3 separate regions of the Homo sapiens genome follow, and regions 2 and 3 are each linked to region 1. Evidence: fine-mapped expression QTL. A gene starts in region 1. Each other region holds a variant in brackets. All regions are shown on one strand. Distances are from middle to middle.

What was found. PIP is the estimated chance that this variant, and not a neighbour inherited with it, causes the effect.
Region 2: its variant is fine-mapped to the expression of BCL2L13 in whole blood (TOPMed, PIP above 0.99).
Region 3: its variant is fine-mapped to the expression of BCL2L13 in tibial nerve (GTEx, PIP above 0.99). The same link has a PIP of 0.9 or more in sigmoid colon.

What each region holds. Positions count from the first base shown.
Region 1 is chr22:17,632,102-17,642,897 of GRCh38, reverse strand. It overlaps BCL2L13 (BCL2 like 13), which reads right to left and starts at 4,141. Exons shown (of 7, transcript NM_015367.4): 1 at 4,012-4,141. It also overlaps the pseudogene LOC124905160. RefSeq lists enhancers at 3,259-4,131, 3,900-4,179, 4,300-4,479, 4,530-4,579, 4,132-5,003 and 1 more and a silencer at 7,893-8,124.
Region 2 is chr22:17,685,144-17,695,939 of GRCh38, reverse strand. BCL2L13 (BCL2 like 13) reads right to left here. Exons shown (of 7, transcript NM_015367.4): 4 at 6,798-6,954. Among named protein-coding and RNA genes, the nearest start is that of BCL2L13, 52 kb to the right of the region's middle. The variant G/C (reference allele first, on the strand shown) is at 6,470.
Region 3 is chr22:17,722,626-17,733,421 of GRCh38, reverse strand. BCL2L13 (BCL2 like 13) reads right to left here. Exons shown (of 7, transcript NM_015367.4): 7 at 2,567-6,745. The coding sequence ends at 5,888. Among named protein-coding and RNA genes, the nearest start is that of MIR3198-1, 36 kb to the left of the region's middle. The variant T/CAGCCT (reference allele first, on the strand shown) is at 5,323.

The DNA.
Region 1 (10,796 bases):
AGACCAGGTGTGGTGGTTCATGCCTATAATCCCAGCACTTTGGGAGGCAGAGGCAAGAGGATCACTTGAGTCAAAGAATTTGAGACCAGCCTCAGCAACATGGAAAAACCCCATCTCTACAAAAAATACAAAAAAAATTAGCTGGGTATGGTGGTGTGTGCCCATAATCCCAGCTACTTGGAAGGCTGAGGCAGGAGAATCGCTTAAACCCAGGAGGCAGAGGTTGAGGTGAGCTGAGATGGCACTATTGCACTCCAGCCTGGGCAACAAGAGTGAAATGCCATCTCAAAAAAAAAAAAATGCCCATCAACTTATTTTTAAAATGTGGTATGTCCACACAATGGAATAGAATGCAGCAATAAAAAGGAATAAAGTACTGATACACACTACATCTTGGATAAACTCTGAAAACATTATGCTAAGTGAAAGAAGCCAGACAGGCCGGGCGTGGTGGCTCACGCCAGTAATCCCAGCACTTTGGGAGGCCAAGGTAGGTGGATCACCTGAGATCAGGAGCTGGAGACCAGCCTAGCCAACATGGCAAAACCCCGTCTCTACTAAAAATACAAAAATTAGCTGGGTGTGGTGGCACGCACCTGTAATCCCAGCTACTCTGAGTTACAGTTACTGAGACTGAGTTACAGTCTCAGTCTACTTTGGGACTGAGTTAGGTTCAACCTGGGAGTCCGAGGTTGCAGTGGGATCATGCCACTGCACTCCAGCCTGGCGACAGTGAGACTCCGTCTCAAAAAAAAAAAAAAAAAAAAAGAGAGAAGCCAGACACAAAAGACCACATATTGGTCAGGCGCGGTGGCACACACCTGTAATCCCAGCACTTTGGGAGGCCGACATGGGCAGATAATAAGGTCAGGAGATGGAGACCATCCTGGCTAACACAGTGAAACCCCGTCTTTACTAAAAATACAAAAAATCAGCCGGGCGTGGTGGCGGGCGCCTGTAGTCCCAGCTACTCAGGAGGCTGAGGCAAGAGAATGGCGTCAACCCGGGAGGCGGAGCTTGCAGTGAGTCGAGATGGCACCACTGCACTCCAGCCTGGGCGACAGAGTGAGACTCATTCTCAAAAAAAAAAAAAAAAAAACACATATTATGTGATCCCATTTTTGTGAAATCTCCAGAATAGGCAAATCCATAGACAGAAAGTAGATCAGTGGTTGCCCAAGGGTGGGGGTAGGAGGACCAGTAATAAAGAATGACTGCTAATGGGTATGGGAGTCTCTTTTTGAGGTGATGAAAATGATTGTGGTGGTGGGTGCACAACTCTGTGAATATACTAAAAAGTACTGAATTGTACAATGGTGAGTTGTATGGTACGTTAATTATATGTCAATAAAGTTGTTAAAAAAAATCAGCTACTCCAATCCTTTTGCGGTTCATAAAGAACCAAGATGACTGGGTTTCATGCTAATGCATGACATGTGCCTCCCTCAAATCATGTTGCCTCATGGGCTTATTGGCACATTACCGTCTGAGGAAGAACAAGAAAAAAAAATAAACCAATCTGAAAATACCACCCACCCCCACTTTGTATATATATTAAACAAGAACTCTTGGTGAACATTTATTTGGAATAAGATACAAATCAAAATCCTGTCTAAAAAATGATAAATGCAGACTGGAACTAAGTGAATGTTTAACACTTGTGTTTTGTATGCCTGAAGTATTTCACAATAAAATACATATCTATTTAGGCCGGGCGCAGTGGCTCATGCCTGTAATCCCAGCACTTTGGGAGGCCGAGGCGGGCAGATCGCGAGGTCAGGAGATCGAGACCATCCTGGCTAACACGGTGAAACCCCGTCTCTACTAAAAATACAAAAAATTAGCCTGTCGCGGTGGCGGGCACCTGTAGTCCCAGCTACTCGGGAGGCTGAGGCAGGAGAATGGTGTGAACTCAGGAGGCAGAGCTTGCAGTGAGCCGAGATCGTGTCATTGCACTCCAGCCTGGGCGACAGAGCGACACTCCGCCTCAAAAAAAAAATATATATATATATATAAAAAATTAATAAACAAACATATATATATTTTTTGAGTCAGGGTCTCTGTCATCCAGACTGAAGTACAGTGGAGCAATCACAGCTCACAGCAGCCTTGATCTCCCGGGCTCAAGCAGTCCTCCCTCTCGCCTCAGTCTTCCAAGTAGCTGGGACCTATGCCTGGCTAATTTTTTTTTTTTTTAATTTTTTGTGAAGACAAGGTCTCCTTATGTTGCCCAGGCTGGTCTCGAACTCCCGGGCTCAAGCAATGCTCCTGCCTGAGCCTCCCAAAGTGCTGGGATTACAGTGAGCCATCGCAAACAGCCAAATGAAATGTTGTTAATGATTATTACTGTTGCAAACCACTTGTCCTAAAAGCTTAATGTGTGTGATATTTAATACATGTTGATTAGATTATGTGCTAGTAAACACAAGTCTGTTTTTTTACAAGACTGGTTAGATATAGCCTTAGGCATCTTTCAATTGAATTCAACTACTGGTCCTTGCTGTAGGAGACAACTAAAAATAAAATAAAAAGTGAATCCAACTACTGAATATACTCTTCCACATAAAAAATGAGCCATTGGAAAAAAAATACAGAACAGTACCTGACCATTCCTAGTAAAAAGATTTTCAATACCCTTAACTGCCTATTACCAAATGAAGAATACTTCACTTGGGGGAGAGAGGGTGTTAAAAATGAAAATAATACTTCATGCGGTGGCGCGGGGGTGGTTGAAAAAAAGGTATCACCGTGCGCGGTGGCTCACGCCTGTAATCCCAACACTTTGGGAGGCTGAGGCGGGGGGATGACCAGAGATTGGGAGTTCGAGACCATCCTGACCAACATGATGAAACCCCGTCTCTACTAAAAATACAAAATTAGCCCCGCGTGGTGGCGCATGCCTGTAATCCCAGCTACTCGGGAGGCTGAGGCAGGAGAATGGCTTGAACCCAGGAGGCGGAGGTTGCGGTAAGCTGAGATCGCGCCATTGCACTCCAGCCTAGGCAACAAGAGGGAAACTCTGTCTCAAAAAAAAAAAAAAAGAAAGAAGGTATCTGAAGGGTGTGGCAACTCATCCAAGGTCACACTAGTCAGGGCAGAGAGCAACATTCTGCTTTATACTAAACCTCCAGAGGAAATCTTATAATTTCGCCAAAGAAGTTTTTGTTTTGTTTTACGCAACAACAACAAAAAAATAAAAGTAAGGAGGGAGGGCTCTCAGCTTAGTTCAAACTTCTAAACAGAGACAGTGAGATAGCTATTTTGAATAAACAAACACTTGTGCAGGGAGTGGCTAAGAGCTAACCAAAGCCAGCAGTCAACAGCATGTGAACAACTGGCCAGATCCGTCCGATTTTCAACGCTAGGTTAGAGCCTCCACTCAGAAAGTCGGTTATGAAGGCAAGAAATAGGATCTTTACAGAATGTTGGGAGGATAAATCAAAGGGGGAAAATGACTCCGTGTGAACTGTACTGCCTCCAAGGGCAAGAAGGCAGTTTTTTTCTGAAAAAATAGGTGTCAGAACAGCAGTGAATTAAGGTTAAGAAACAAGACTTCTAACAATCTCTGAGAAGAAACGACTAAGACTGGCAAAGCTAATCTTCCAGTGTTCTAAGTGAATCGCAGGAAAACCTTTCCCTCAACCAAAAAGAAGTCGCCGTTCCCCAGTTTAGCCCTAAAAATGGACCCGGGTTTTCCACGTGAAGCTGTCTGTGGGGAAGGACAGCGGCGTGGAGCCAGGGCCGAGCTCCTCCGCCTCCGGCACCCCACGCCGGAAGAAGCCTGCTCAGCGGCGGGGCCGCGCGGCCAGGTCCGGTCACGGTGAAGCGGACCCCTAAGCTCCGAGCACCTTCGGGCGAAGGAGCGCCGGTGTAGACACACACACTCAAACTCACGCGTCGTCGGAACCACTGGGGAGTCGGTGGCTCGATACGGTCTCTGGGCACTTTCCTACCCAGGTGAAAACCACCTCCTCACCCAGCTCAGCCTTCCCGGAACCCCACTCCCCTCACCTGGCCCTGGCCCCTGCCCCAGAAGAGATGAAAGAGGCGGCGGCGGCAGTTGCTTCCGACAGGGTCCCCCAGCGGCGGTGAGTGCTCCGACCCGCGGCCCTAATCTACCGCCGCCGCCATGTTGGAGGGTGAGGTCACCCCGGCGTGCCTTCGTCACGGCCGGCGTCGGGGCGGGACCTGAACTACCTGACATCCGGAACGGTATCCGGAGCGGAAGGACCGACCAACGGAGGCCCCGGAGGTCTCTCCGTCCAGATGTGACCTGAAGACCCAAACCCTCCTAGCCCGCCCAAATCTGATTGCGACGTTCGGAAGTTCCGTCTCTCAGATCATTTCCGGAGTCGAGGGGTTGGGATTCTGACCGGCTGGTCGCTGTGTTGGAGGAAGGGCAGGCGATTCCAGGGAAAGAAGCCTTGCTGCATGCACAGGCTATGTTCAGTTCCACAAACATGTATTGCGTTTCAAGTGTTTGCCAAGGGAGCAGGTCAAATAAGTATCTACACAGTCACGACAGCCTCGATGTTCGCCACTAGTTGGGGCAGATGGTCCTTGAAGGTTGGGAAGGAATTCCGGGGAGGGAATATAGCGGGGTGGTGTAGAGAGGTCCTCCTAGGCGAAGGGAACTGGCTGAGCAGAGGCGCCAGGGCATGAAGGAAGTCTTAACTAGTAACCCGCTTTTGTTAACAGTACCTGGAACACACAGCGCCTGGAACATACTTAACTTGTATTAATGGATGTTTGTTTACTTGAATCCGAGAGTTCTTTGGAGGAGTATCGGAAGGTATCTAGGAGAGAGGATACAGTGTGTTTTAGGGAGATCAAATTGCCCGTGGTGTGTGTACTGAATTGGAACAAGGAGGGCATTGACAATAAGGAGTTAGAAGACTGAGCCAGATCAGAAGTGATAAAATCCTGATGGGGAGTGACTGCCAGTGGATACAGAGTTTCTTTTTGGGGTGATGGTGGCACGACTCTTTGAAATACTGAAAACTACTGAATTGTACACTATAGGTGAATTCTATGTTATGAGATCTATATCTCAACAAGGCTATTCTAAAGGAAGTGATAAAAGAGTTGAACTGCTATTGTGGGGCTGGTGCCACAGGATGCTTTTTAAGCCCGAGTGACTGAGGAAAGGATGGTGCCATTAATAGGGACATAAAGTTTTGCAAAGGAAAGGCTTAGTGACCTTGGAAAACTAATAGTACAGGCCGGGTGTGGTGGATCACTCCTGTAATCCCAGCACTTTGAGAAGCCAAGGTGGGCGGATCACTTGAGGTCAGGAGTTTCAGACCTGCCTGGCCAACATGGTGAAACTCCCCATCTGTACTAAAAACACAAAAAATTAGCCAGGTATGGTGTCACGCGCCTGTAATCCCAGCTACTTGGGAGGCCGATGCAGGAGAATCGCTTGAGCCTGGGAGGCAAAGGTTGCAGTGAAATGGGTAACCAAAAATGAAGACTTTTTTTTTTTTTTTTTGAGGCAGAGTCTCACTCTGTCGCCCAGGCTGGAGTGCAGGGGCGCGATCTCAGCTCACTGCAACCTCTGCCTTTCGGGTTCAAGCGATTCTCCTGCCTCAGCCTCCCAAGTAGCTGGGATTACAGGCACCCACCACCATGCCCAGCTAATTTTTGTATTTTTAGTAGAGGCAGAGTTTCTCCACGTTGGTTAGGCTGGTCTTGAACTCCTGACTTCAGGTGATCCACTCGCCTTGGCCTCCCAAAGTGCTGGGATTACAGACGTGAGCCACCGTGCCTGGCTTTTTAAAAATTTTTAATAGAGACGGGGTCTCACCATGTTGGCCAGGCTAGTCTCCTACTCCTGACCTCAAGAGATCCGCCTGCCTCAGCCTCCCAAAGTGCTGGGATTACAGGGGTGCGCCACCGCGCCCGGCCCTAATTTTACTTTTAAGGTCTGTGCAGTTCACTGTATGTACACTTTACCTAAAAAAACTTTCAAAAATGTAACATGCAATAATTTATTTTGGGAGGTACTTATGTTACCAATTTGGTACATACTTAAGTTCATTTCTTTCACATTGCTCTCAGTCTTTTCCTTTATTTATTTATTTATTTTTTATTATTATTTTCTCGAGACAGAGTCTTGCTCTGTCACCCAGGCTGTAGTGCAATGGCGCGATCTCAGCTCACTGAACCTCACCTCCTGGGTTCAAGCGATTCTCCTGCTTCAGCCTCCTGAGTAGCTGGGATTACAGGCACCCACCACCACACCTGGCTAATATTTTTTTTTTGTATTCTTAGTAGAGATAGGGTTTCGCCATGTTGGCCAGGCTGGTCTCCAACTCTTGGCCTTGGGTGATCACCCCTCTCGGCCTCCCAAAGTGCTGGGATTACAGTCGTGAGCCACCATGCCTGGTCTTATTTATTTTTTTAGAGACAAGGTGTCGCTTCTGTTACCCAGCCTGGAGTGCAGTGGTACAATCATACCTCACTGCATCATGGACCTCCTGGGCTCACAATTGTTCCACCTCAGCCTCCCAAGTATCAAGGACCACAGGCTTGTGCCACCACATGTAGCTTTTTTTTTTTTTTTTCTTTTTTTTGAGACGGAGTCTCCCTCTGTTGCCTGGGCTGGAGTGCAGTGGCAGATCTTGGCTCACTGCAACCTCAGCCTCCTGGGCTCAAGTGATTCTCCTGCCTCAGCCTCCAAAGTAGCTGGGACTACAGGTGTGCACCACTATGCCTGGCTACATTTTGTATTTTTAGTAGAGACGGGGTTTCAGTGTGTTGGCCAGGCTGCTCTCGAACTCCTGACCCCAAGTGATCCACCCACCTCAGACTCCCAAAGTGGTGGGATTACAGGCGTGAGCCACCGCCCCAGGCCACACATGGCTACTTTTTAAAAGATGTTTTTGTAGGCCGGGCGTGGTGGTTCACGCCTATAATCCCAGCACTTTGGGAGGCCAAGGGGGACGGATCACGAGGTCAGGAGATGGAGACCATCCTGGCCAACACAGTGAAACCCCGTCTCTACTAAAAATACAAAAAATTAGCTGGGCATGGTGGCGCGCACCTTCAGTCCCAGCTACTGGGGAGGCTGAGGCAGAAGAATCACTTGAACCCGGGAGGCGGAGGTTGCAGTGAGCCGAGATCGCACCACTGCACTCCAGCCTGGGCGACAGAGTGAGACTCTGTCTAAAAAAAAAAAAAGATTGTTTTTGTGGAAATGGGTATGTTCCCCAGGCTGCTCAGAAACTCCTAGCCTCAAGCAATTCTCCCATCTTGGCCTCCTAAAGTTCCTGGCCTTCCCTTTTTAATTTTATTTTTTGAATATATATTTTGAGACTAGACATACAGGTCAATGGAACAGAACAGAAAACCTAGAATTGTTAACTAATTTTCAACAGAAGTGCTAAGGCATTTCAATGAGGAAAGAGATTGTCTTTTCAGCAAATTGCATAAAATAATATAGCCCTTTTATAGAAATCATTTGACTTTAATCACAGCAGTTTATGGTATTTGGAGTTTTTTTATTTAATTTGCTTTTGTTTTAGTAGAGATGGGGTTTCACCATGTTGGCTAGGCTGGTCTCAAACTCCTGACCTTGTGATCCGCCCGCCTGAGTCTCCCAAAGTGCTGGGATTACAGGTGTGAGCTACCACACCCGGCCCTTTTTTATTTAATTTTTTAGTTTTTTTTTTGTAGAGATAGCGTCTTGCTGTGTTGTCCAGGCTGGTCTTGAACTTGTGGCCTCAAGTGATCCACCTGCCTTGGCCTCCTGAAGTGCTGGGATTATAGGCATGAGCCACTGCACCTGGTCAGTTTTCGGGGGAGTTTTGGACAGATTTTAATAGGCGCTACAGATCTCTAGCCTACAGGCTAATGTGGTTATCGACTCTAAACTAGACTCTACTCATTTTATTCATTTGCATTCATCAGTTGTTTGTTGCTTTTTTTTTTTTTTTCCTTTTGAGACAGAGTCTCCACTTCCACTCTGTTACCCAGGCTAGAGTACAGTGATGTGATCATGACTTACTCTAGCCTTGACTTCCCAGGCTCAAGCAATCCTCTGGCCTCATCCTCCCAAGTAGCAAGGACTACAGGCATGCACCAGAAAGCCTGGCTAATTTATTTAATTTTTTTTTGTAGAGGCAGGTGTCCCACTATGTTGCCCAGGCTGGTCTCAAACTCCTGGGCTCAAGTGATCCGCCTGCCTCAGCCTCCCAAAGTGCTAGGATTACAGGTGCCAGCCACCACGCCTGGCCAATCAATTGTTTATTGAATCCCTGCCATTAACCAGGCAGGGTGCTGGGTGCTAGCAAAAGCAATGATGAGTACATCAGACGCGGTCCCTCTTGTGAAGCTAACATCTTAGTTGGAAAACCAGAAAAGAAAAACATTGAAACAGAAAAAAGTAAAAATAATTTAAGATGATGGCATGGGCTGGGTGCGATGGCTCACGCCTGTAGTCCCAACACTTTGGGAGCCTGAGGCAGGTGGATCATAAGGTCAGAAGTTCCAGACCAGCCTGGCTAACATAGTGAAACCTCGTCTCTACTAAAAATACAAAAAATTAGCCGGGCATGGTGGCTCATGCCTGTGGTCCCAGCTACTCGGGAGACTGAGGCAGGTGAATGGCTTGAACCTGGGAGGTGGAGGTTGTGTTGAGCCGAGATCACTCCACTGCACTCCAGCCTGGGCAACAGAGTGAGACTCCGTCTCAAAAAAACAAAACAAGACAAACAAAAAAAAGGTGGTGGCATGTCCTGAAACAGACAAGGGACTGGAATAGAGAAGAAGGTGAGAGAGTGACCAGGATAAGCTCTCCTCAAAGAGATTTTGAGACCTAAAGGATGAAAAACAAGTTAAGTGGTAAGTGGAGGAAAATAACTTCTCAAGCAGAAAAATAGATGTTTTCAAAAAAACTGAAAGGCAACCAGTAAAGCTTTGAGGTGGTGTGCAAAGGGAGGAGGGGTAATGAGGGCAGGCAAGCATACAGGGCCAGATCCAGTGGTCTCATCTACTAGAGCCAGCGGAAGGCTTCAGGAGCAAGCAGAAGCCATGACAGAGTTGTAAATTGGGGAGTGACTTGATGCCATCTGCCATCTAGGTTTTAAATCACTGTAGCATAGAAATTTGGCTGGAAAGAGGCAAAAAGTGCAGACACCTAAGTTAGAGTTACTATTTTTTGGCTACACTTTGTTTTTTCCTTTTCAAATTATTTGCTCAACATTTAAAGACAGATGATTTACATTTACTTCTAGTCTTTCGCGCTTTGTCCTCCTGAGCAAACTCCAGAGTTAGCTTATTTATCCTGCTGATTCAGTATCTAGTAAACCTGCCTGGGAGTAGGTGAGAGCACATGAACCGTCCCTTTCTGACTAACCTGACAGGAATCTAGGCCAGTGACTTTGGTGAAGCCACAAATAGGCTTATCTAGGAGGGAGTTTTTTGAAACTTGTCTGAAAATATGTTTTAAAGTGTCTCCACAAGGCCTAAGAATGTAGGAGAAAATTACATTTGGAAAACTACCAACTGGCTCATCTTTGCATGTATTCATAACAACTTTTTCCCTTCAGAGGTTATCTCTGTAAAGCTTACATTCTTTTCAGACAGGACCTGGCCTGTTCCTTGGTGAATCAGCAAAACTGAAGAAAATTGAGTTTTAAAGAGAAACTAACATGGGGGAGAAGTGGGTGCTGCAAAAGGGGATAGTAACTATACCTACGATTTGTTTTTCAAGTGAAGTCTTGAAGTAAATGTGACAAATGTTAATTGTTAATTTTGGGTAGTGGTGCATGGTATGGGAATAAATTATTCTTTGTACTTTTTTGTATTTTCTAATGTCTCAAAATAAAAATAAGTAAATCGTGGTCAGGCGCAGTGGCTCATGCCTGTAATCCTAGCACTCTGGGAGGCTGAGGCGGGTGGATCACCTGAGGCCAGGAGTTCGAGACCAACCTGGCCAACATGGTGAAACCTTGTCTCTACTAAAAATACAAAAATTAGCTGGGCATGGTGGCACATGCCTGTAGTCTCAGCTACTCGGGAGGCTGAGGCAGGAGAATTGCTTGAACCCGGGAGGCAGAGGTTGCAGTGAGCCAAGATTGCACCACTGCACTCCAGCCTGGTGACAGAGCAAGACTCCCATCTCCAAAAAAAAAAAAAAAAAAGAAGAAGAATCATAAAGATTATCACACTGTTTTCCAAAAAACAAAAGCACGGTTGATCTAGACAGTGCTACATCCATTCCAGATATTAATTTCAGAAACAATTTGACATGTAGAATTAGACTGCTGTTTCTACTCCCCAAATCCTGTCATTTGCAGAACACTGTAAAAATACAGGAGAGATTGTAATCAAAATGTGTTAATTCCACCTCAACCTGACCTAGGGATGCTAGAGGGTAGAATAGTCCTCTAGCATATTCCATACTCCTGCAATCTGTTTTTTAGGACAATGAAGAATGAGGCTATTAATGCAAAAGATGAACAAAATTAGACAAATAATCCAATCTAGTTTAGCTCAATAGTGATCAAGTTAAGGTCAATTGCATCAGTTTCTCTTGCCCTGTGTTATTGTTCTGTGACTAAATCCTTCCTTTATCCAGCATTATCAGTACTCTCAAATATATATACCAATATGTACACCAATCTGTCCTACAAGGAACACTGTGCACTAGTACAAATGGAAAAAATGGCAGCATGTATTAATAAATATATTAATAAATGGCAACGTTTATTGTCCTGTGGGTAAATCTTTCCTTTATCCAGCATTATCAGTATTCTCAAATATGTATACCAAATATGTATACCAATCTGTCA
Region 2 (10,796 bases), 53 kb before region 1:
GAAATAGTTAATAACATAGCAAGATAAATGTATATTCTAGTAATTTTTTTGTAACTGCTTGGAACTTACAGGATAGGATTTTTATGCTGCAAAGAAATACCTGAATTATTAATACAGGATAAAATAATAACAAAAATGATCTCATTAGCACAATGAAAACCAGAATTTTAACTTTTTTTAAAGGTAAAAAATCTAAAATATTTTAAAACTAAAGAGACATGTCACTGGAAGACTTTTCATATTGAGGAGACAAGAGTTGAAATAAATATCGCAATAAATTGAGTCCACTTTTTAAATTTTTAATTAAAAAAATTTTTTTTGGCTGGGCATGGTGGCTCATGCCTGTAATCCCAGCACTTTGAGAGGCCGAGGCAGGTGGATCACGAAGTCAGGAGATCAAGACTATCCTGGCCAACATGGTGAAACCCCGTCTCTACTAAAATACAAAAAATTAGCCAGGCATGATGGTGTGTGCCTGTAGTCCCAGCAACTCGGGAGGCTAAGGCAGGGGAATCGCTTGAACCAGGGAGGCGGAGATTGCAGTGAGCCGAGATCGCACCACTGAACTCCAGTGTTGGGAGTTTACAAGAAACGAAGGCTCAGGGAAGGCTGAACGTTACCATGCTAGATTTAACTATTGGCATGAATATTTTGGTCTTTCCTTCTTCCTGAGTATCCAGGAAAGTATATTTTCCAGCCCCTTGCAGTTAAGCAGGGCCATGTGGTTAGCCCAGCCAATGAAATGTGGGTGGAAGTGATGGGTGCCACTTCCTGGCTGAAGCAGGAAGAGACTTTCTGTAATTATCCAGTCTCTTTCTCTTTCTTGCCCTGATGGTGGTAGACGAGGCTGTGTTGAGGTCCTGGAACCATAAGTTCCAAGTGGTTCCTCGCATTGCTACGTGGCCACACCTGTAGCAGATTTGCATGACGCCAAAGGAACTTTTCTCTCGTGAAGTCACTGAGATTGAGGGATTGCAGCAAATCTCAGCCTACCTCAATTAATACATCCTACAGCTGGGAAGTGGTGTGGCTGGGATTTGAACTCAGATCTCTCTGACCACAGACTGAAAACAGAATCAGGGAAGACGGTTGTAGATTCAGGGACACACATTTTCCCCACCACCTGCATTTTAACATTTTGAAATCAGGTTTCATCTGATAATCAATGGCACCTCACCACAGTTGTTGGCCTGTTGGATGTTAAGATTCTGACACATGCCATGACAATGTCTCGATGTCACATGTAGCTAATGAGCATTAGAAACGTAGCCAGTGTGCTGAAAGTATAATATACACACTAGATTTCAATGAGGAAGAAAAAACAATCTAAAATAGCTCAATAATTTTTTGTACTGAATACATGTTGAAATATTTGCACTGGTGACAGTGCAAGACAGTGCAAGACTAAAAATTAAAAAAAAATTTTTTTTTTTAAATGGAGTCACCTATGTTGCCCAGGATGGTCTCAAACTCCTTGGGCCCAACTGATGCCTCCTACCTCAGCCTCAGTGCTAGCTGGGATTACAGGCCTGTCCCACCACCCCTAGCTGGAGTCCTATTTTTAACTTGGAGTGTTATGATACAAGGGTAGAGAGATAAGCCTTTCTGATTATTTCTATGTAAGTCCTAGTCATACCAAAAACTCGAATCATTAACAACACTCACTCATTTGTTGAGTGACTTCAAGTACTTTATTTAAAGCACGGTTTCATGCATAAATTTTAAAAACAAAAGACTTGGGGACCAAGTAACATATGAAGGCATCAATTGTTCAGATAACAGATTTAAAATTAAAAAAATCTATTAATTAAAAATTAATAGATTAAAAATTTACCTTCCCTCCTTTTGGGCAAAGTATTAACAAACATGTTAAGAAAGAATGGGCTGGGTGCAGTGGCTCACGCCTGTAATCCCAACACTTTGGGAGGCCAAGGCAGGTGGATCGCTTGAAGTCAGGAATTCAAGATCAGCCTGACCAACATGGTGAAACCCGTCTCTACTAAAAATACAAAAATTAGAAAAAAAAATACAAAAATTAGCCTGGTGTGGTGGCACTCGCCTCTAATCCCAGCTGCTCAGGAGGCTGAGGCAGGAGAATGGCTTGAACCCAGGAGGTGGAGGTTGCAGTTGAGCCGAGACTGCGCCACTGCACTTCAGTCTGGGCAACAAGAGCGAAACTCCATCTCAAATTAAAAAAAAAGAAAAAGGAAAGAAAGAAGAGAAGGAGTCTTGCTTTTGCAGAGTTTTAAAATCCCACCCCAGCCAGGTGCTGTGGCTCACGCCTGTAATCCCAGCACTTTGGGAGGCTGAGGTGGGTGGATCACCTGAGGTCAGGAGTTCAAGACCAGCCTGGCCAACCTGGTGAAACCATGTCTCTACTAAAAATACAAAAATTAGCTGCGCGTGTTGGCGCATGCCTGTAATCCCAGCTACTCAGGAGACTGAGGCTGGAGAATTGCTTGAACCCGGGAGGCGGAAGTTGTAGTGAGCCGAGATTGCACCACTGCACTCCAGCCTGGGTGACAGAGCGAGACTCCGTCTCCAAAAAAAAAAAAAAAAAAAAAAAACAAACACTAAATAAATAAATAAATAAATAAATAAATAAACTACCCCAAAGGCATTTTTCTGCTCTGTCCACTGTGACCTATGACTTCCTTAGTTTAAGAATATTTAAGATTGATAATAGCTACCACTTACTGGTAGCTTATTATGTTAGGTTTTAATATTTCATATATTTATATTTTATATTACATATTATTATATCACATATTTGGAAACCAAAGCTCAGAAAAGCTAAGAAATTATCCCAAACCCACATAGCCGGAAAGCAGCAAGGCAGGAATTCACACTCAGATCTGGTATCAAAGGCCATTATACTACTCCCATTTCAAGTTAAGATTCTGACACATGCCATGACAATGTCTCGATGTCACATGTGGCTAATGAGCATTAGAAACGTGGCCAGTGTGCTGAAAGTATAATATACACACTAGATTTCAATGAGGAAGAAAAAACAATCCAAAATAGCTCGATAATTTTTTGTACTGAATACATGTTGAAATATTTTAGATGTACTGGGCTAAATAAAATATTAAAAATTTTACATTTCATTTTATTTTTTACTTGGCTGCTAGTTTTTAATTACATTTTAAAACCACATTATATGTGACTTGCATTGAATCGCACTGGTCTAGATATTTCAGAAAAGAATCCTGATGACACAGGCATCATTCTTTCACCTAAGTCTGTATCAAATCAATACTACAGTGATGCTGAAAGGAAATGAGATACCAGAGATGGCCTCTGTAATGATGAAATGTATACAGCATATGCTATCTTCCTGGCATCACCTTCCCATTAAAGTGAGCCTAGTACTTTTCAGATGCCTTGGGCTAAGTAGCAGATTCGTGTAAACCTTGAACTTCAGCAGATACTACACAGTCTACCTACCTATAGTTTCCCTGAAGCTTTACTTGCATATATCAGTCCCCTCACTTCCTTTCCTGAACTGTTTGGTGCTGCTGGGGGTCACAGTAGTCCTTACTGGTTGTTTGTCTACCAGGCTAAAGTATTTTAGCATCGTTCTGAATGAAACATGATTTGAAACATCATATACACAGACATACATGCACAAAAAATGCAGCAGATTAAAACATTCAAAGGAAATCAAATACATAGAAAAGTAAGTAGCTAAATAACCAATCCTACCTAGTGAGCTATTAGAATAGAGCAAAGAAGAAAAGAGCGGGGCAGGATACCTTTTTGAAACAGCTGTTGTTCTTCTGTAAGAAGGGTTCAGCAATAACTTCCTACATTAACAAAACCTTTTGGAGGAATCAGTGGTATTTTCTACCTTACGATACTGCCTTCAACGTTTATAATACTTCTAGTTTATGTAGTTTATCATCCATTAGTTATTTTCAAAGTACTAGTAACAGAGCTTAAAACTTCTAAAAACAGATTTCTGAAAAAAGAAAGAGACCTGACTTTGATACATAACCAATTTCAAAAATAATTCTATCAAGATTTGGGAAAAAAATAAACATTTGTCCAAGCCAATTCTCCTTTAAATAGAATTTGCTGTGAGAAGACATCAATTTTTCCTGTAGATCATAAAAAGGACTTCAGAAACAATACTTTTAAAAACTTACATAACACTGTTTTTTGAAGAGCTTATACTACACCATAAAGTTAAAATTAACACATGGAGAACTGAAATATTAAGGGTGACATGGTTTGCTCCAAGCCAAAGTCTGTATCAAATTTGGAAAAAGATTCTTTTTTTTTTGTTTTTGAGACAGAGTCTTGCTCTGTCACCCAGGCTGGAGTGCAGTGGTGCAATCTCGGCTCACTGCAAGCTCCGCCTCCCAGGTTCACACCATTCTCCTGCCTCAGCCTCCTGAGTGGCTGGGACTACAGGCACCCACCACCATGCTGGGCTAATTTTTTGTATTTTTAGTAGAGACGGGGTTTCACTGTGTTAGCCAGGATGGTCTCAATCTCCTGACCTCGTGATACGCCCGCCTCGGCCTCCCCAAGTGCTGGGATTACAGGCGTGAGCCACCGCGCCCAGCCAGGACAAAAAGATTATTTTAAAAGTCTGCACCTTTCACTTCATTATTTTACTCCTGGTCCAGATAACTTTTACATTTTTGTGGAGAGAGGAGTGAAGCAGCAAATTTCTTTCTTCAAGTCTTAGATGTAACCTCAGAATATAAAATATATGAAAGTACACGTGCTCTGGTTAAGAAAAGTGGGAAAATAAATAAATAAGGCTAGGTACAATGGCTCACACCTGTAATCTTAGCACTTTGGGGAGGCTGAGGTGGGAGAGTTGCTTGAGGCCAGGAGTTATAAGACTAGTCTGGGTAACATAGTGAGACCCTGTCTCTACAAAAAATTTAAAATAAATAAATAAATAAAAAAGAAAGAAGAGTGGAGAGGCCCTAATGAGCTTAACCCACTTACTATCCCTCACTTCTTCAGGACCCCTGCAGCACCTCTATGCCTAAGGCTCCATAGAACACTTTTTGAAAACAACTGCTGTAAATCCAAATTTCCTGTGTAAGTTTTATTTCCCAACACCCATATACTTCTCTCCATATTTATATTTAAATTTTACTATATATTAGGTTAAGAAAATCCAAATACGACTTTTTTAATTTTTATTTTTAGAGACAAGGTCTTGCTCTGTTGCCCAGGTTGGAGTGCCACAGTGGTGTGATCATAGCTTACTGCAGCCTCAAACTATTGGGCTCAAGTGATCCTCCCACCTCAGCCTCCCAAGTGGCTGGGACTACAGGAACATGCCATCACACTGGCTAATTTTCTAAACATTTTTTTTGTAGAGACAGGGTCTGGCTATATTGCCCAGGCTGGTCTTTAACTCCTGGCCTCAAGCAATCCTCCCGCCTGGACCTCCCAAAGTACTGAGATTACCAAATACGATTTCATTTCACTGTTTAAGCATAATTAGTATTTTTACATTTGCTCATTTCACAATACTACGCAACAAAAAATCAAATTCTCCTAAAACCCAAATTACTTTCTTCTAACAAACGGTAATCGATATATACTTTGCTTACAGGAAAATAAAAAAAAAATTTTTTTCTTTCAGATGGAGTCTCCCTCTGTCATGCAGGCTGGAGTGCAATGGCATGATCTCAGCTCACTGCAACCTCCGCCTCCTGGGTTCAAGCGATACTCCTGCCTCAGCCTCCCGAGTAGCTGGGATTATAGGCACCTGCCACCATGCTCAGCTAATTTTTGTATTTTTACTAGAGATGGGGTTTCACCATGTTGGCCAGGCTGGTCTCCAACTCCTGACTTCCAGTGATACCTCCACCTCGTCCTCCCAAAGTGCTGGGATTACAGGCTGATTTTTAATATTTATAATAAATGATTTGGTTCTATTTTAATACTTTCCTTATTACTAGCTTCTTGCCTTTAGCTTTAATATGGTCAGAACCATAGCTAGGAGAGAAGTTCCTTCTATAAGAATGTAGAAGCAGTTCCATTGGCAGATGTGCAACCCTAAAGTTGAGCAACTTCTGGGATACAGATATAACGGTTTTTTGGGTTTTTTTTTTTTTTTTTTGAGATGGAGTCTCGCTCTGTCACCCAGGCTGCAGTGCAGTGGCAGGATCTCGGCTCACTGCAACCTCTGCCTCCCGGGTTCAAGTGATTGTCCTCCCTCAGTCTCTCGAGTAGCTGGGACTAGAGGCATGCGCCACCATGCCCGGCTAAGTTTTATATTTTTAGTAGAGACGAGGTTTCACCATATTGGCCAGGCTGGTCTTGAACTCCTGACCTCATAATCCGCCCACCTCGGCCTCCCAAAGTGCTGGGATTACAGGCGTGAGCCACCGCGCCCGGTCAATAAAATGTTAAATACAGAATTCTAAAATACAGATATAATGTTAATCCCACATTACAACGCACAAAACGCTAGCCATTATATTCATGTCAC[G/C]ACTAGAGGAAATGGCAGTAAAAAGTGGTCTGGGGAAGTGAAATAGCTTGTATTTACTACTTGGTAAAAGCATTCGGTGAAACCTGACAGCTCAACATATAAATACAAATTAACAAATCTATGTTGGAATAGCTAAATCACTCCTTTAAAGCAAAGCTGTCATTCAAAACACAGAGATGCTTTGGGAAAGAAAATGAAGAAAATGTAAAGAAAAGTGAGAAAAGAAGTGACACTGTTCACCTAAAACACAGCCCTAACCAATCCAGTGCTGCATGAGAGATCCAGAGACTACTTAAAGAAGCACATCCCACTCAGCAGTGTAACTCACTGGCTCAGGAGCATTTGCAATGCTTTATGGAGAGGCTCTTTCAGTTCCTGGGACACTTTTTCTCCAAGATGGGCCAAGCAGTCTTCCATTGAGCTTTCTGGATTGGCAGGGCTGAACACTGGAGAAGTGTGACGGTCAAAGCCTGTGCTGGTGAAGGCTGAAGATAGGACAAAAGAAAAACCTAATATAATAAACAATATCTATAAAATTAGCTGGGTGTGGTGGCACATGCCTGTAATCCCAGCTACTCAGGAGGCTGAGGCAGGAGAATCACTTGAACCCAGGAGGCAGAGGTTGTGGTGAGCCAAGATCACGCCACTGCACTCCAGCCTGGGCAACAAGAGGGAAACTCCGTCTCAAAAAAAAAAAAAAAACAACAATATCAAAAGTTGCGCTATAAAAGGCCACAGGATTAAGACACCCACTATTAGGAACAAGCTAATCATTACAAGCCACTTAAAAAGGTCAGATAATCATTGTGGACATTAATCTTTGTTGGCACGTAAACATTGATAGGTCATAAATTTAGAGGTTCTTTTAGGTTTTAATGAAAAAGCTTAGATTTAAGAGAAAAGAAACAACTAAACTGACATGTTATAATAAGCTAATCAATTTAGTTTATGATTACTGACCAACAAGTATAATAATGATAAATGAGAAGCAATTCCTGGCTCTATTATCCTTCTCTTAAAATTCTGTTTTTAAGATTTTGTTTTACATTTATAAAACTGGCACTTATATCAGATTCTAATCATCCTCAGAGGATGAGTCCATTGCTTTCATTTCCTTATTAAAATGAACTTTCAACCTTAATATTACTACACATGGATAAATTTTCAAACTATTATATGAAGATTATACAAACAAGTATAAAAGTTGAACCAGAAGCCGAGCACAGTGACTCATGCCTGTAATCCCAGCATTTTGGGAGGCTGAGGTGTGCAGATGGTTTGAGTCCAGGAGTTCGAGACCAGCCTGGGCATCATGGCAAAACCACATCTCTACTAAAAATACAAAATATTAAGGCCGGGCGCGGTGGCGCATGCCTGTAATCCCAGCACTTTGGGAGGCCAAGGCTGGGCAGATCACCTGAGGTCAGGAGTTCGAGACCAGCTTGACCAACATGGGGAAACCCCGTCTCTACTAAAAATACAAAAATTAGCCGGGCGTGATGGTGCATGCCTGTAACCCCAGCTACTCAGGAGCCTGAGGCAGGAGAATCGCTTGAACCTGGGAGATAGAGGTTGCAGCGAGCCAAGATTGTGCCATTGCACTCTAGCCTGGGCAACAAGAGTGAAACTCCTTCTCAAAAAAAAAAAAAAAAGGGGCCGGGTGCGGTGGCTCACGCCTGTAATCCCAGCACTTTGGGAGGCTGAAGCGGGCAGATCACGAGGTCAGGAGATCGAGACCATCCTGGCTAACACGGTGAAACCCCGTCTCTACTAAAAATACAAAAAAATTAGCTGGGCCTGGTGGCGGGCGCCTGTAATCCCAGCTACTTGAGAGGCTGAGGCAGGAGAATGGTGTGAACCCAGGAGGCAGAACTTGCAGTAGGCCGAGACTGCGACACTGCACTCCAGCCTGGGTGACAGAGCGAGACTCTGGCTCAAAAAAAAGAAAATAATAATAATAATAATAGCTGGGTGCTGTGGCACACGCCTATAGTCCCAGCTACTGGGGGGCTGAAGTAGGAGGATCACTTGAGTCCAGGAAGTCAAGACTGCAGTGAGCCCTGATCATGACACTACACTCCAACCTGGGCAACAAAGTGAGACTCTGTCTCCCCAAAAAATAACCAAATTAATTAAATAAAAATAAAATAAAACTTGAATCCAGAAAAAGCAGTCATAACTTGTTGTAGACACTTAACCATTCCCTAACTGCAGGAAGAGCAAGCAGAGTAACTTGTTCCAGAGTACAAATGCGATGCAAGGCATCAGCTACCAGGAAAGCAGGCCGCTTGCACCCACTCCCAAGATTTAGCCGTCATCTGCATTAAGTATTTATTGCATTAATCTAACGCTTACTCCTATAAGGCTGCAAATTTTACTATAAAGTATGTGTTTCTTTATAAAGTGCTTGCCTCCGAGAAAGATGCAAATGGCTGCAAAGTTCACAAATACTTTGTTGTTTGAGCAAGCTGGAGAGCATCCATTTTAATGGTCTAACTTAGATAATATGGGGTTCAATAAGTGAACGTATTTTAAACCTTTTGTTACTCTCTTCTTCTTTCTACCTTTTGCCCATTTTACTATGCAGCAGTGCTGTTACCAGAATATACATGAAGAGAATCAGAAATTTAATCATTTCAAAATGTTGATAAAGAAATATAATGGTCGGGCACAGTGTTTCACACCGGTAATCCCAGCACTTTGGGAGGCCGAGGCGGGTAGATCACAAGGTCAGGAGATCGAGACCAGCCTGACCAACGTGGTGAAACCCCACCTCTACTAAAAATACAAAAATTAGCCAGGCATGGTGGCGGGCGCCTATAATCCCAGCTACTCAGGAGGCTGAGGCAGGAGAATCACTTAAACTCGGGAGGCGGAGGTTGCAGTGAACTGAGATCGCACCACTGCACTCCAGCCTGGGTGACAGAGCGAGACTCTGTCTCAAAAAAAAAAAGAAAAAAAAAGAAATATAAAAGACAAGACTAACATTAGGTTTCAGGATTATTTGTACATTTCATTTTTTTTAAATGGTCTCACTCTGTCACCCAGCCTGGAGTACAGTGGCATGATCTTGGCTCACTACAACCTATGCTTCCTGGGTTCAAGAGATTCTCATGCCTTAGCCTCCGAGGTAGCTGGAATTACAGGTGTGCACCACCATGCCTGGCTAATTTTTTTGTATTTTTATAGAGGCAGGGTTTCACCATGTTGGCTGGGGTCATCTCAAACTCCTGGCCTCAAGTGATCCACCCACTTCAGCCTCCCAAAGTGCTGGGACTACAGGCACCGCACCTGGTCTCGGGATTATTTGTACATTTCTATCTGTGTTTTTTCTCTACTAACGAGGAACATGAGTTATGAACATAATTTATAATTTTGATCATTAAAAATTATTGGGCAGGCTGGGTACGGTGGCTCACGCCTGTAATCCCAGCACTTTGGGAGGCTGAGGTGGGCGGGTCATGAGGTCAGGAGATCAAGAACATCCTGGCTAACACGGTGAAACCCCGTCTCTACTAAAAATTACCAAAAGAGTAGCTGGGTGTGGTGGTGGGCACTGTAGCTCCAGCTACTCAGGAGGCTGAGGCAGGAGAATGGCGTGAAGCTGGGAGGCGGAGCTTGCAGTGAGTCGAGATCCCGCCACTGCACTCCAGCCTGGGCAACAGAGCGAGACTTTGTCTCAAAAAAAAAAAAAAAAAAAAAAAAAAAAAGAAAAAGAAAAAATTATTGGGCAATATATGTCCACACAAAAACTTGCACAAGAATATTCACAGCAGCATTATACATAATAGTAAACAAGTAGAAACAACCTAAATTTCCATTAACTAATGAATGAATAAACAAAATATGACACATCCACACAGTGGAATATTATTTGACTGTAAAAAGTAATGAAGTACTGATACATGCTACAACATGGATGACCCTTGAAAACATTATGCTAAGTCGGCCAGGTGCAGTTGTTCACGCCTGTAATCCCAGCACTCTGGGAGGCCGAGACAGGTGGATCATTTGAGGTCAGGAGTTGGAGACCAGCCTGGCCAATATGGTGAAACCCCGTCTCTACTAAAAACAAAAATTAGCTGGGCGTGGTGGTGGGTACCTGTAATCCCAGCTATTCAAGAGGCTGAGGCTGGAGAATTGCTTGAACCTTAAAGTCGGAGGTTGCAGTGAGCCCAGATCATGCCACTGCATGCCAGCCTGTGCAACAGAGCAAGGCGATGTCTTAAAAAACAGCAACAACAACAAAAATACATTATGCTAAGTAAAAAATGCCAGTCACAAAAGACCACATAGTGGCCAGGCGCAGTGGATCACGCCTTTAATC
Region 3 (10,796 bases), 91 kb before region 1:
GATACTCAAGGCTTCCTTAAAGGATCACAGCACTGGCGCCTAGTTTTACTGTCCAGCAACTTTATTAGTTGTGCTAGCTGAGAATTGGAATATAGAGTCCTTTGAATGTTACGATCTTGTTTTCAAAACCTGGAGTCAAACCAATTAAGTATGGACTTAACAAAGACAATTGATGATGTGAAATGATACCACCTGTCAAGGGCATAGTTACCATGTGGATAGAAAGATGAGTCCACTGATTATCTTCAAATCCCATGTATTCTCTCTAGCACGTTGCTTCTGACAGAAAGAATAACTCACAGATTTGAAGTTTGTTCCTTTCCCCTGATGAAGAGTAGATTGGCCAAAAGGTAGATGACAGGAAGGAAGAGGAGCCAGAATGACCCACAGTGATCAGTTCAGCAGTGCAGAGCGGCAGTGCAGAGGCTCATGGAACTCACACGGAAAAAGGAAACACATGCTGCTTAAAATGCACGATAACTTAATTATCCAAATTACCATTCAATTCCGGTATTTTTGAGATGAAAGCATTTGAGCCAACACTAAATTGACCTTAATTAAGGAATGAGGTAGGAAGAGGCACTTTTAATCTGGAGGAAGAAATAAATGGAAGACTGTAATAGGAAAAATACAGGTCTAGGAAAAAAATAATTTTTTTCCTTTGATGCTGGCCAAGGACCCCTCTACATAATACAGTTCTCCTGCTGGAAAGCATCAGGGCAAACAGAGTTATTCCAAACTCTGCAACAGGGAAGACTGTACTTTGACCTTCTTTTCCTGGGGAAAGGGAACAACTAGTAATCTTTAAATGTCAAAACTTTTCTTCTAAATAGTACATTCATTAACCAGTTTCTTCTGGTGGTGCAAAGAACACTCACCACAGTGAGCAATACCACTATTCAATTTCCCCTTTGGAGAGGTGACAGCGGGGTAGAATCACCTGGAGTCAGCTGCTAGTCTTTAACTGATGACAAGGCCTTGCAAATACCCCTGAGAACAATTTCACTCTGAGCTCACAGGGAAGCAGCAGTCTGGTGTGGGCTCCTGTGGTGTAACCATCAAATGTGGAAGACCTGATGGTGTTAGTGTGTGGGGATGCCGGGCTGAAATTCAACAGCCTTGCAAAAAGAAAGGGAAGATGGGATGTGTTAATATTGTAGTGGCATGCACTTTCCAGCTCTCCATGGAGCTCTCTTTATATATGAGGTAATTGAATGTCACTATTCTGTACCATACAGCAGGTATTATCTAGCCAAGGTTATAATTACCATGAAGTGCTGTGGAATGTAGTAGGAGGCTTTTCACTGGGAAGATCCTCCAGGAGCTGACGTACTTGTGGCCATACCTGGTCAACCCTCCTAAGTCCCCAACCTCTTTGTCTGTCCAGAGGCCAAGCAATGCTTCCAGGTATTCCCCTACTTCACTCCACAGCCCCACCCTTATGATGGCATACACAGGGGAGAAGGGACGAACTCGAACAAACAGAAAAAGACCAAGAAATGCATCGTGGTGCTGTCTTCACCCCCCTCATTTAGCACTTTGTGATAACTGCTGGGACAGATTGCCTAACCTTGTCTACAAGCAAAAATATTTAATCAAGAAAGCTAATGAAAGCTCATCGGCAATGACTGTGAATTCTGTAACCACAAAGCATCTCACTCAATGTCTACAGGGAAAACAGCTACATAATTGGAAGCTGAGACCAGTCCTGGACCTAACCCTCACTCTTGTTTTTTTGTAGTAGAACATGCTTAATGTTTAAGTGAGCCTATATGGTGCCTTTGTACAAATTAGAAAAATACTTCGCTTCTCCCAGAGCCCACAGCATGGTGAGCAGAGCACAGGCTGCACGTCGGAATTTGTCCCCAGTCAGTCCTTATGCAGTAAACAACTGGCGCAACTGTTTGCAGGGGACCTGCCAATACTGCTTTGCAGTGCCAGGAAAATGATAAAAACCGGCAAAATCATTGCCTTGCCTCGCCTATGCTTGAGGACGTTAGAAAAACTAACTCTGGGCCGGGCACGGTGGCTCACGCCTGTAATCCCAGCACTTTGGGAGGCCAAGGCGGGTGGATCACGAGGTCAGGAGATCGAGCCCATCCTGGCTAACATAGTAGAGACCCTGTCTCTACTAAAAATACAAAAAAAGCAGCCGGGTATGGTGGCGGGCGCCTGTAGTCCCAGCTACTTGGGAGGCTGAGGCAGGAGAATGGCGTGAGCCCGGGAAGCGGAGCTTGCAGTGAGCCGAGATTGTGCCACTGCACTCCAGCCTGGGCGACAGAGCAAGGCTCTGTCTCAAAAAAAAAAAAAAAAAAAAAAAAGGAAAAAGAAAAACTAACAAACTCTGATTAGGTTCTTCATTCTGTAATATGGGAATAAAAGGAATACAAACAGCTATTAGAACTGTGAAGGTGAAATAAGGTATGTGAGAGCACTAGAACCGTCTCTGGCATGTTATAAATGCTCAACTAGTATTTGCTAAAATATAATTATCGACATGAATTTTTTTTAGGAAAAATTATACACCCTAAACTCAAATGAATGTCATAATTGAGAGATTATCACTAAGGGCAGGTTTTGGTGCACCAGAGAAGAGGAAACATTATTCTGGTATCCAGTATGTCGCTGAGATGTTAAACGAGATAATGCTTGTGTGGGAATTTGGGCAGAAGCTCTAGGTCGTGTCTGTTAGCAATCAGATAGCCTACAAGGCCGTCTTGATGGGTATGATCACCACCTCAAATTCTTGGAAAGATAAGTTTGTGTGGAAAGATGTAAGAAATTAAGAGAAAGGGAAAATTCTTAGCTACAAAACGTTTTATTTCTATAAAACATCTCTTAAAATAATTCAAACACTGAAATGTCCACATCTCATACCTTTCAGGAGAAAGGCAAGGAGACTACTTGCCTTACTGTCATATTATTGAGGGAATCAGCGCAAAGCCTGAGGAAATGAACAGTAGCTGTGGGTCAAAGCCATGTCTCCAGGTTCACGGCTCACTCCCCCAGGACAAGCCTAGTTAGGTAGTGGCTGCATCTGGTATCCCTGGGACAGAAATGCAGGTGAGAAGGGGTATCAAGAATGCCTCGAGGGGGAGATGGGTGAACCAGAAGGTCAACAGTTGCATTTCTTCATCTAGAATGTTCTCTAGAAGGGAATGATGATCATGAGAGTCCCCTTAAGGCACACCGCAGGTACTGACTGATTTCTGTGGGCCCAGAATTATCACTTTAATACAGAGAGGATAAATTGGCGTTGTTTTTTCCCCCCAATAAATCATTACCTTCAACAGAGCAGTTGAGATGAGGTCTAAGGACTAACAAGAACTTTTCTATAAACAAGTTGGATTTATTCTGAATCTTTCCTTCACCTTAGACTTAGAGGGTATAAGTTGGAGGTGGAAGGAATGGCCTCCTACTATCAGCTCCTCCCCCCAAAAGGAGGGGAAGCTTGAGAAATAGTTTTTTAAATGTATGAGCAAAAAGCAGGAGCTGCAGTAGGAAGCAGTCCTCATGAGGGCTGTTCCCTTCCACTGCTGGAGGCAGAGGGTGAGGACGTGAAGGAAGAACAGGGATGCTGCCACATCCTGTTAACTCAGGAGCTGACCAAGAGCTACCAGAGAAAGCCAATGGAAAACACTATCTAGTTCCATTACCGTGAAATACAACTGGCCAAATCACTGTGGAGGAATGTCTAACAGGTGGGAAAATAAAGCAGCAAGTAGCCGCTTCCATACCACATTTCTTCCTTATTCTTTCCTTTCGTGGGCAACACAGGCTCCAATTTCCTAAGCCTCACACCTCCTTTCAGCAGCTCAGAGATGAACCTGGCTTCGATTGGTGCTTGAATGCGCTCAGCCAATGGGTGTGAGGATCCAGAACTGGCAAGTGTTAATACTGGAACTCATAGGATTTATTACTTTTTAAAAATCAAGATAACGCACCAGTTTGCTCTTCACCTATGCAAACACAAATATAGCAATTAGAATACAGAACAATCAATGCAACTATCAGAGCCCATGAAGAAAAAAATCATTGCCTCAATAATCCCATTCCCCCCACTCACCTCTAATTACTTAATCCAAGTACACAAAAACCCTTAAAACATCACTCCCTAAATGGGACACTAAAACACAGAACAAAGACACGCTACAGGATAAAGCTGGAAAGACACACAAACATACTCCCAGACCTTGTTTTGACCAATTTTTAAATATTGCTTTAGGGAGATTTTATTTGAAAACATAAATTTCAAAAAGAAAGCACATTTAAAACATCAGGTTTTGGTGATCAGGGTAGGTAAAGTATTTTTATTATAAATTTCAAGATCTAAAAAATAATTTATTACATTTACTAAGATAAATCTAAGATGACCTTTTTAAACCAAGCCACGTGTGCCCTGCATAGTGACGTCGTGGCCCTCGGGCATGGAAAGACACGGGTCTGCCCTTCCTTTAGGGCTGGAAAGACACGGGTCTACCCTTCCTTTAGGGCTGGAAAGACACGGGTCTACCCTTCCTTTAGGGCTGGGATCAGCCAGAGGAAAGAAAATTATGCCGATGCTCAACTAGCATATACTGATTAGGACTATTTTGGTTTATTACCCTGGCATTGAAGAATTCAGGTGAAGATGCCACCACTCTTGAACTCTGAAAGCCAAACTAGAATCTGCAGAGCAGCCTCAGTCTTAAAATTCAAGCTTCTTTTTCCTACTTTTTATTTCAGTGATATTTAGGACACTCTCTATTTCATAAGAATTATGATCTAACTGGCTCTATAAGCCCAAGAATAAAAATCCTTACCCCCTAGCAAGAGACCCATAGAACTCATCAGTAGTAAGACTAAGGTCCCATATTGGAAAAAATATACTAGCCCAAGGTTATAGACAGGGACCATCCAGCAATAGAGATGTTGCTGGCAAGTAACCATGGTGGTGGGTGACCACTAGCGAAAAGGGCTGAAGAGACCTCAGAAGGTCATCCAGGTTATCCTCCTGCCTTGACACAAGACACATGTGTCTCTCTAGCCAGAGTTACTTGCAGTTGCACTCACAAGTGGGGACCCCAGGTCTCCTTCATGTGATTTTCTCTGTGTACATATTTCGAAGATTCCCAAAGGCAGCATTTTTACAAGGTGGAGCTGCAGGAAGCTTCGGGGACTTGACAGACTGAGTCCAGAGCAAGCCCTCGCCCGTGGGATCTTAGCAGGAACCTGGGGGTGAAGAGGAACAGTGCAGTCCCTGAGAGGCAGCTGAGAGTACGGGCGAGCACCCTCACACTCCAGGATGAGGGCGGGGGGCAAAAAAAGAGTGGGTGCAGAGCC[T/CAGCCT]GCTCATCGAGAAAGATGAAATTCTAAGGGGATTAAGAGCTAAGAAGTCAGTAGCTGAGGAGCCCACAGCTAAGTTCTCTCAGCTGGGAATTTCTATCCCAATTCTTCCTAAGTAAACCCTCTCTCGCTAAAGCAGTGGGTCTCAATAGGGGATGTTCACACGGGACATTTGGCAATGTCTAGAGACATTTTCGTTTGTCATCTCTGGGAGGGGGTGCCACTGGCATCTAGTGGGTGGAGCCCACCACACACAGGACAGCCCCAACACAGAGAATGGTCAGAACAGCACTAGTGCCAAGGCTGAGAAACCCGGTCCTGGAGGGGGTGCTTTACCCCTAAGATTCTCAATTTAGCATGAGCGGAGGCCCTTGGGATTTACAGTCAGATGAATGTGAATGCCCCACCTCAAGCCCTAACATGCCTAACATGCCACTGCCATGTTGAGCAGAAGTCCCCAATTATCCCAGAGTGTTCCACAAATGTCCAGACAGCTGCTGGAGGTTCAAATTCCAGCCAATACAACTCCAACCTTACATCCTTCTGTCTTTCTCTTCTGAAAAGCCTCCTATTTCTTTCTCAGAGCCAGGGCTACCCCGATGGCCACTGCCAGGATGGCAACAGCAGCAGCCCCTCCAAACAGCAGTATAGACTTGCCCTCAGACAGCGGCATGGGCTTCATCTCACCGGCGGGGGACAGTCTAGACTTGCCCTCAGACGGCGGCACGGGCTTCTTCTCGCTGGCAGGGGACAGCTCTTCCACAAGGCTCTCTTCCCTTGCGTTTATCTCCTTCTCACTCAGCAGCGTTTCTGTGGGTTCCAGTGCGGGGACCACCTCCTCCACTTCAGTAGGTTCAGTTGTTGCTGCTTTCACCTCTTCTTCATCAAGTTCTACAAACAGAGATGTAGCAGGGCTGGATTTCTCAACTGTGATCACTTCTGTGTCAGGTTCCCTTGTCCCCAGCAGGGAGGTGGCAGTGATATGTGGAAGCAAGGGAGCTGGGGCTTCAGGAAGTGCCTCTTGCAGCTCCCGCGCTGGCAAGACCACAGAAGCCACAGCAGCCTCTTCCATGCCCTCGGGCACCTCTTCTTTCTCCACGTGCACAATGTCAGAATTAGAGGAGTTGTTCTCACTCTTCTCTCCAGCTCCGTTGCTGTCTAAGCTTTTCACTTCTTCAGGATCCATTGCAATCTGCTGCCAGGACTCAGGGCCTAGTGACACTGGCAGGCTTTCTGTGTGCCAACTCTGGCTAGCTGACAGTGACACAGGTAAGCTCTCAGACTGCCAGGAAGTGGTCACAGTTGGAGACTCTGGGGGACTGACTTGTCCAGAGTTGTCGCTGGGCAGGATGTAAATGTCATTGCTATCTTCTGCAGTGATTCCAGGGTATTCCTCCTCCTCTGACTCAAGACTAAACACAGTGCCCTAGAAACGAAGGACAAGCGTCAATAATAAAGAATGGTAACTATTTAAAACATAAACATCAATCTGGAAAGCAAATTCTTTCCTAAACTGAAGTTCTAGGAATGAAACACTGTTTAAACCTACATAGTTTCCGAATGGAATGCATGTATTTGTAGGCCAATGCAGAGAAAGAATTTTTGACAGTCTTCTGAGCAGTCTCCTTGAAACTAAAAAATCCTAAGTTAATATACATTCAGTGTAATTCACACACAGGCTGAGAGCATCCTAATCTGAAAACCTGAAATCTGAAATGATCCAAAATCTGAGGTTTTTTTTTTTTTTTTTTTAAGATGGAGTCTTGCTCTGTCTCCCAGGCTAGAGTGCAGTGGCACAATCTCAGCTCACTGCAACCTCCGCGTCCCAGGTTCAAGCGATTCTCCTGCTTCGGCCTTCCCAGTAGCTGCAATTATAGGCACCTGCCACCACGCCCAGTTAACTTTTGTATTGTTAGTAGAGATGGGGTTTCACCATGTTGGCCAGGCTGGTCTGGAACTCCTGACCTTCAGTGATCCACCCGCCTTGGCCTCCCAAAAGTGCTGGGATTACAGGCGTGAGCCACTGTGCCCGGCCCAAAATCCGAAACTTTTTGAGTGCTGAAATGACATCACAAGTGGAAAATTCCACACTTGACCTCATGTGGTGGGTTGCAGGCAAAACACAGTCAAAAATCTGCTTCATGCACACAAAATATTATATATATTTATGTTATAAATATTGTATATTTGTAAATTAATATATTAATATTATATAAAATTACCTTCACGCTATATGTATAAGGTGCATACAAAAAGAAGTAAATGTCATGTTTGGGCTTTCCCATCCCCAAGACATCTCATCACATACACACAAACATTCCAAAATCAAAAAAAAAAAAATTAAAATCCAAAACACTTCTGATCCCAAGCACTTTGGATAAGGGATACTCACCCTGTATGTTCAATGCAGTAATTAATGCAAAACAGCAGAGAAAACAAAGGCAAGACCTTGTGCTCAAGGAATTTATCACTTAGTAGGGTATACAAATAATGCTATGTCATAGTCCAAGTGCCATTAAGAGTTCATATGGCAGTGTTGCTTTCCTTAGAAGAAGAAGAAAAAAAGTTCAGATGGGAAAAAGACCTCTTTGGGTAGAGGTCAGAGAAAGCAGGGAGATCACAGAAAGCCTCACGGAGGGACTAGCATTTCTATCAGACATCTGAAGAATGGGTAAGATTTTGGCAGGCGAAGGGTACACAGAAGACACAATGCAGGCAAAAGCACAGAGACAGAAAAAAAAGAAGATAAGGACAGAGCCCTGTTTAATTAATGCAGAGTGCCCATGAAGAATAGAAGGTCAGTGAGGACAGGACCATGGAGGAACCTGAATGACAGCTAAGAAATATGGACTTTATCCAACAGGCGATGGTTTGTCACTGACATCTCTGAGGTACAAAATTATAATCAGAGCTTTGCTTTAAAATTCCTCTGATGGCAGAGACAGAATGGAGAAATGCTGCAGACACGGAGACTCTTGCTTCTTTTGTCAGGAAGTCTGAGTGAAAGCAATAAAGCCCTACAGCACAGGCCTTGTGTCCATGTCTATTAATAACAGGCCACCGTGTGCCTACTGCTTATCAGGGTTGTGTCAGGCACAAGGGCTACGAGAAAGAATGGGTCTATTCTTACAGAATTTACTAGGCAGCTGTGAAGCCTGACATATGAATAACTAACTTCAATATGATACAGAAAGCTTTATGACAGGTGTATGCACAAGGGGCTAGGCCAACCCAGAGGGTAAGGCGCAATAAAAGGACAGGAAGAGAACCAATGGAATGGAATGTCACAGAGATGTACAGAAATTGTCATACAAAGGCTAGACAACACTCGTAAAAGCTACAGGGAATCTGAATGGAATATGTAAAGCAAATTAATTTCTACTTCATTTTATGATTATGGTTGCTATTCAACTGAAGTAGGATAATTTCATTCTTCAACCAAAACCAAAAACTTTCTACATACATCAAGGATCTAACATAAATCAAAAGTCTATCAGCCCCATAAAAAAGGAAATAAGAAATACAAATAAATCACACGACCATGATGTCGGCATCATACTGCACCACTTTCTACCTCGACCCTTGCTCCAGCCACTTCAGAGGCCCTGGTAAGCATCAAGGATGTTCTATGAGTATGGAATAATCAGGGGGTTAAAATAATACAGTATGACCACAAAATTCACAGTCAAAAACAACTGGCTTGTATCCCAGCTCCAACTGTGTACCAGCTGTGCGAATCTGGATACCTTGCTTAAACTTTTAGACTTCAATTTCTTCACAAATAAAATGGGGATGACTGACTAGATAAGATTGTTTTTGTTGTATTTTTAGAGTTGGGGTCTCGCTCTGTCACACAGGCTGAAGTGCAGTGGCAGGATCACAGCTCACTGCAGCCTCAACCTTCTGGTCCCAAGGGATCCTCTAGCCTCAGCCTCCTGAGTAGCTGGGAATAACAGCATGGGCCACTGCACTCAGCTAAGTTTTTTTATTTTTTGTAGAGACGGGTCTCTCTATGTTGCCCAGGCTGGTCTCAAACTCCTGGCTTCAAGCAATTCTCCCACCTCAGTGTCCCAAAGTGCTGAGATTATAGGTGTGAGCCACCACACCTGGACTTGAGTTCATTTTTAAAATGAGGTATAGTTTGTTTTTTGTTTTTTTTTGTTTTTTTTTTGAGACGGAGTCTCACTCTGTCATCAGGCTGGAGTGCAGTGGTGCAATCTTGGCTCACTGCAACCTCCGTCTCCCAGGTTCAAGTGATTCTCCTGCCTCAGCCTCCCGAGTAGCTGGAACTACAGGTGCACGCCACCATGCCCAGCTAATACTTGTATTTTTAGTAGAGACGGGGTTTCACCATGTTGGCCAGGATGGTCTCAATCTCTTGACCTCGTGATCCACCTACCTCGGCCTCCCAAAGTGCTGGGATTACAGGCGTGAGACACCGCGCCCGGCCCGAGGTATAGTATTTATAGTGCTTAGATTAGTACTTTGTACATAGGAAGTAATCAGTAAGTTATGCTATTTCATAACTTGCTATTGTTTGTGTTGTCATTTTAATTGTTGTTTTTGGTGGTATGGTGGTAGGACAAAGAGCTATTCTAAAATACCAACTGGATGGGACAATAAGGAAGTGAAAACAAATGGAAACAATACCCTCCCTTGGCTAAAGAAGGTAATTTACAAACTTTTCCTTCCTCCTCCATCTCTTCTAAGCAGAGATAACACAAAACTGTAAAGTAAAATCTGTCTTTAAAAATTACAGTACTGCAGTATACAATTAGGAAAATTGGAGGGCCCATTGGCTTGGAAGAGAGGGCTTCTAGGCCTCCCAGCTTTTGAGGATGACAGCTTGCCCCAGCCTCAGGGTAAGGACCACTGGAATGGTCCAGAAGAGGATGCATTCAGGAGAGGGAGAAAGAGAGAGGGAGAGAGGGAGAGGGACAGATAGAGAGAGACACAGGGAGGGTTTGGTTCAGCTAAGTAAGCAAAGACATGGAGATCCTAACCGGAAGCTGTAATCAGGTCTCAAGCTTACACATTTTGCAAGGATTTTCATTAGCATCATTTTTAATACAGAAGGATTTCAAACAGTCTTCAATACCCTCAGGAAAGTTTAAAAATATATATGGTTCATCCAAACTATTTAACTACTATTAAAAAAGAAGTACATTTTTAAGTCCAATGTGGAAGGAAGCCCATATTGTACAATAACTCTACATAAAAAACTACAAAGTATTATTGAAAGAAATTAAAGATATCCTAAAGGGATATATATATCATGCTCATAGATTGGAAAACTATTGTAAAGATGTCAGCTATTCCCAGATTAACCCTTTGGTTCAATACAATCTCCAATATAAAATCCTACCAGGTTTTTTCTTATGGAAATTGACAACTAATTAATTCTAAAATCTATATAGCAATTTAAAAAGGCCAAGGAATTTAAGCTGATCTTGAAAAACAACAGTTTGAGAGCTGAC